Regions from separate parts of the Homo sapiens genome. Here region 2 is linked to region 1. A link means that fine-mapping ties the variant in region 1 to the expression of a gene that starts in the linked region. Tissue or cell type: whole blood. Region 1 holds a variant in brackets; the other region holds the start of a gene. All regions are shown on one strand. Distances are from middle to middle.

What was found. PIP is the estimated chance that this variant, and not a neighbour inherited with it, causes the effect.
Region 2: it holds the start of STN1, and the variant in region 1 is fine-mapped to the expression of STN1 in whole blood (INTERVAL, PIP above 0.99).

What each region holds. Positions count from the first base shown.
Region 1 is chr10:103,830,834-103,833,683 of GRCh38, reverse strand. The region is part of intron 1 of SH3PXD2A (SH3 and PX domains 2A); the gene reads left to right. Among named protein-coding and RNA genes, the nearest start is that of SH3PXD2A, 23 kb to the left of the region's middle. The variant C/TC (reference allele first, on the strand shown) is at 1,314.
Region 2 is chr10:103,916,763-103,919,262 of GRCh38, reverse strand. It overlaps STN1 (STN1 subunit of CST complex), which reads left to right and starts at 1,079. Exons shown (of 10, transcript NM_024928.5): 1 at 1,079-1,163; 2 at 1,607-1,801. The coding sequence starts at 1,669. RefSeq lists a silencer at 768-1,117 and enhancers at 858-1,152, 783-1,428, 1,288-1,617.

The DNA of each region.
Region 1 (2,850 bases):
CAAGCAACAAAATCCCAGCTGAAACAATCTCAAGCCATGTGGAAATTTATCATCTCACTTTCAAGAAAGTTCGGGTAGATAATAAGGAATTATAACTTTTAAAAAAAGATTCCTCTGTTAATGAACATTTAGACTGTCTCTAACTTTTTCGCCACTTCAAACAATGCTGCTCTAAACATCCATATATAAATATAAATATATAGATATAAATATATATATATATGTCTTTGGGAACTTGAGCTACTATTTTTGTAGGATAAATTATTGAAGTGACATTAATAAATAAGACAGGTTAGGATTTATGTCAGATGGGTCAGTTCACATTTAATCTGTTGTCCTATACCATCTGTATCTAAATCCATCAAATGAGAAGTGATGTTTACAGTGAAGACCATTGTGGATCCCTCATACCTATGGAATCACTTCATGGACATTGTATTATTTTGCATTTTTTCCCACTTATGGCTGGGCAGCAGGCTAAAATAATGCTTAGATGGAAAAGACGTAACATAAAGGGCTTCCTGGTTAACCACCAGATATTTAGAATATTCTATACCCTTGAGTGCCATAGTTAGCAATTTTGTTCAAGAGAGTTTGTGATTCTCTGTTAGAAAGTACAGGATGAAAAGCCTAATAATGCTAAGTGTTGGTGAGAATATGGGGAAGTGGGAACACTTACGTAGAATTTTAAGTGGTGTAACCACTTTGGAAAACAATGTGGCAATATCTAGTAATTTGAAGGTGTGCTTATCATGTGACCTGGTGGTTCTACTTCTATTTTTTTTTCTTTTTATTATACTTGAAGTTCTAGGGTACATGTGCACAATGTGCAGGTTTGTTACACATGTATACATGTACCATGTTGGTGTGCTGCACCCATTAACTCGTCATTTACATTAGGTATATCTCCTAATGCTTTCCCTCCCCCACCCTGCCCCAGTGTGTGTGTGATGTTCCCCTTCCTGTGTCCAAGTGTTCTCATTGTTCAATTCCCACCTATGAGTAAGAACATGCGATGTTTGGTTTTTTGTCCTTGCGATAGTTTGCTGAGAATGATGGTTTCTAGCTTCATCCATGTCCCTACAAAGGACATGAACTCATCCTTTTTTATGGCTGCATAGTATTCCATGGTGTATACGTGCCACATCTTCTTAATCCAGTCTATCATTGATGGACATTTGGGTTGGTTCCAAGTCTTTGCTATTGTGAATAGTGTGTAGTATTTTAGATATTATTTAGAGAGTAGATAGAAATTTATTATTTCCTCCAGATCAGCTGGTTGAACCTTGTTTTCTTTTCTTTTTTTTTTTTTT[C/TC]TTTTTAGGTTCTACTTCTAAGTGTATACCTTAGATTCTAGGGTGTAGAGACTATCTCCCAAGTGCACATGAGAAGACACGTGCAATGATTTTTATTGCTATGTATTTGTAAGACAGACAAATTGGTTTATCAGTCAGAATGGGATAGGTTAAGTTACAGGAACAAACAGCCCCCAAATTCTATTTCTTGCTCATACTGCCTGTCCATTGGAGTCATTAGGGGCTGCTGCTCGTTGTAGGCACTTGAAAACTGAGACTTGCAAAGGCCTAGAGTGCTTCCATGGTCCCTGGGGCATGGGGAGAGAGTGTAGCAGTGTCCGGCAGTGGCAATTAAATGCTTCTGTCCATGAAATATAATTCTGCCATAAAAATGGAATGAAGTGCTGATTCATCCTGCAACCTGGATGAACTTTGAAAACATTATGCTAAGTGAAAGAAGTCAGACACAAAAGGCCACAGGTTGTATGATTATATTCATATGAAATGCCCAGAACAGTTAAATGCATAGAAACAGAAAGTTGGTTAGTTGTTTCCGGGAGCTGGAAGTATTGAGGAATGGAGAATAACTACTAACTGCCATGAGGTTTCTTTTTGGGGTGTTGAAAATGTTCTGGAATTAGATAGTGGTGATGTATTAGTTGCATAATTCTGTGAATATACTAAAAAAACACTGAATTGCACACTTTAATTAGTTAATTAATTAAATTTATTTTTGTAGAGACTGAGTCTTATGATGTTGCCCAGGCTGGTCTTGAATTCCTGGGCTCAAGCAATCCTCCCACACTGGCCTTCCAAAATGCTGGGATTATTGAGCCACCCTGCCCAGCCAAATTGTACACGTTAAAATGGTGACCTTAATAGTATATGAGTTATGCCTCAATTTAAAAAAAATGCTTCTGTCCAAAAATAACACATCCCTTGGCCAAAGAGGTCACCTGGCCACACATACCTTCAGGTTGTTGAGGAAGCACAATTCTACCATGTGCCTGGGAAGGAAAAGAATTGGTATATTCAGTGAACAGCCCTAATGGCTACCACTTGGAACAGTACAAATGCCAATGGTTGGATAAATAAGGTATAGGATATTCACTGATGGAATTCTGTACAGTTAATATGAATAAGATCTGTAAGTGTCAACATGAAAAGATCTCCAAAACAGTATTGAATGAAAAAACAAGAAGTAGAATATTATCTCTGATACCATTTATGTAAATATTATTTATGGAAATATCGATCCATTTATGTAAATTAAAAATTATTCACAAAACAATAGTGTGTAATGTATGGTTACATATGTTTGTAGTAAAAGCATGCAAACACAGACTGGAAGGATGCTTCGCACCTGTCTTGTATTATGACTGTTCCCACCTAAAAATGTAGATCATGTGTTGGTTCTTCTGACCAACTGGGGAAATTCATCCTATTTTTCAATTTATTGCGTATTCTCACCATTGCAAACCCTCATCCTGACTTATTTTTATTTTTTCTTTTAGCCCTAATCCTCAATCCTATCCCTTTTCCTCTTAGCCATCCTCTC
Region 2 (2,500 bases), 86 kb before region 1:
ACACACACTTTCCATTCCAGCGGCTCCAAGTTCCTTCTCTGATAAATAGTTTAGCAATTATCTCTTTGGCCACCACCTGCCTCCCCCGGGAATGGTCTGCCAGGGTGATCTGTACTCCCCTGCCATTTTCCAGAGTCTCTGTAAATTAGGAAGAATTCCTGACGTCTCGGGTAACGTAGCTCTTTATGGGAGTGGAACGTGGCTATCTTTCCTCACTTTAAAATAGAAATTCTGGAGACTAAGCACCATCAAGGTGGCCATGATTTACCAAAATGCCAGCTTTTCAAAGTTCTTAAGTGTACAACCTTCCAGACTGTAGACCGAACAAGGGTAAAGGAGACAAAATGTATTGTCATGATTTTGCACGGCTAGTCTCTGGCAGAGTCAAGACCTCACATTCACTCGAGGGCTCAAATTTAGATATTGACATCTCCAAGTGAAACTAGAGTCCTAAGTGTGTGAGTCAGGTCACTTACCAACTGTAAATGAACATTTAAAATATGCCACAATGCACTCGTGGCACTGCTTACTTTTTATCTGTTTTACATATCAGGAATCAAAAAGAAAAATAGTCTGATCCTGACCCAACCTCTAGGAGGCCCAGGTTCAGGGTCCCGCCACCAGCAGGAGGAGGGGTGAAAGGTGACTAGAAGAGCGGCGTTAGAACTGCAGGAATTTCAAGGTCGCCTCCTAGGCCTCAGCGGTGGAGGCTAGCACGAAGGCGGGGCTGCAGCGCTGCCTGAACCAAAAGTACGCTGCGCTGAGGCGGGGCACGGAACGGGCTGGACTTCGGCTGGATGGGGCCTAGCGGATGGTTGGGCCGCGGCGGGATGGGGCGGGGCTTCGGGCGGGATGGGGCGGGGCTTCGGGCAGGATGGGGCGTGGCCGCGGCGGGATGGGTGGGGTCTGGGTGGGATGAGGCGGGACTTCGGGAGAGATGGGGCGGAGCCGTGGCGAGGCGCTGCAGCAGAAAGGAAATGCGCTGGCGGGGAGACCGGGGTTGGTCCCTGGCGGGGCAGGGGGCGGGCTCAGGCCGGAACTCCAGAGACGACCTCAGCCAACTGCTCCTGCGCCGGGCGGGGTCGTCGCCGCCAGCGGCTCCGAGCGCCGGAAGGGCCAGGTCTCAGGGCTCCTGGAGCTGCAGGCGGCGGGAGGGGCTACAAGTGGGTCCATTTTTTAGTATCTTTTTTCCTCCTTTTCTTGGCTCATCCCCAAAAGCGGAAAGTTTAGGGCAGAGCGACAGTCAGACCCATCCACTATGCCCCAACACGTGCAGGGCTGCGAGGGCGCCCGTTCCTCCCGGGACCCCAAGCGGTTTCTGCTACGCCTGTACAGACGTATCTTCCCAGAGTGAAAGTTGATGTTTAGCCGTTCCGAAGTTGGTGCTTTGTGGGAAGGAGAACAGCGGGAGAGCCGTAAGGAACGCAGGCGTCCTGACGTGAGGAACGCCTCTTAACACGCCCCGTGGCATGGAGTTTGACAGGGCCCTGGATCCCTGCGTTCACCCCTCCTGGAGTCCTGGACGCCCACCTGGGAGCAGCGTCAGGGCCGTGCCACTTTGACCCACGTTAAACGCATTGCATCCTCATTTCTGTGTCCCATCTAGATGCTTGACTCAGTGATGCAGAACCTTTCAGAGTTAGCTGGAAGCCACAGCCCTGCCTCTTGATGCAGCCTGGATCCAGCCGGTGTGAAGAGGAGACCCCTTCCCTCTTGTGGGGTTTGGATCCTGTGTTTCTAGCCTTTGCAAAACTCTACATCAGGGATATCCTGGACATGAAGGAGTCCCGCCAGGTGCCAGGTATGTGGCTAGCCACCCTGGGATGCCCTGGGCTGCATCTGCCACCCTTTCCCAAAGTCTCAGAAAGCTGGGATTAGAGGCTTTTAGGAGAGCCTTCCCTGCTGCAGGCTTTGAAAGGGACCTAGCCTGGACCTTCGCATGAGTTCATTTATTTGCAAGGTAAAAAAAACAGTCTAAATCTTTTTTTTTTTTTTTTTTTTTTTAGTAGGTGTTTGGGGGAGTAACTTTTGTACTGGGGTTTTTACCTCCATTTAGGGTCTTTCATGCTTAAAAATGCTCATTTGTTTTTCTTTGGCCCTGCTCCTGTTGGAGAGATCGCTGGGCCAGATATTCCTAGGCCTGGCTCCTTTCCTAAATGTGCCACTTACCTGGTCCGGGCATGTGACTCACCTTCTGCAAAGTCTGGGTTTCTTTGTAAAAATGGAGCTTAACCCTGTGTAATGGAATCTTTTGATTCCTGATATGTAAAGGGGGTTTGTTTTCTTTTGAATTAAGCAGAATCAAAATATTATAAACTCCCTGAGAGGAAGAACATCATCTGTCTTGTTCACCTTTGTAATCCCAGGGCTTAGAACAGTGCCTGGCATATAGTGGGCCCTCAAATAGAAATAGCAGTTGAAGCAACAAGGCATTATACATGTAAAGTTTAAATTTTCTTTTTTTTTTTTTGTATTAGAATAGTGGCTACTAGAGATAGGC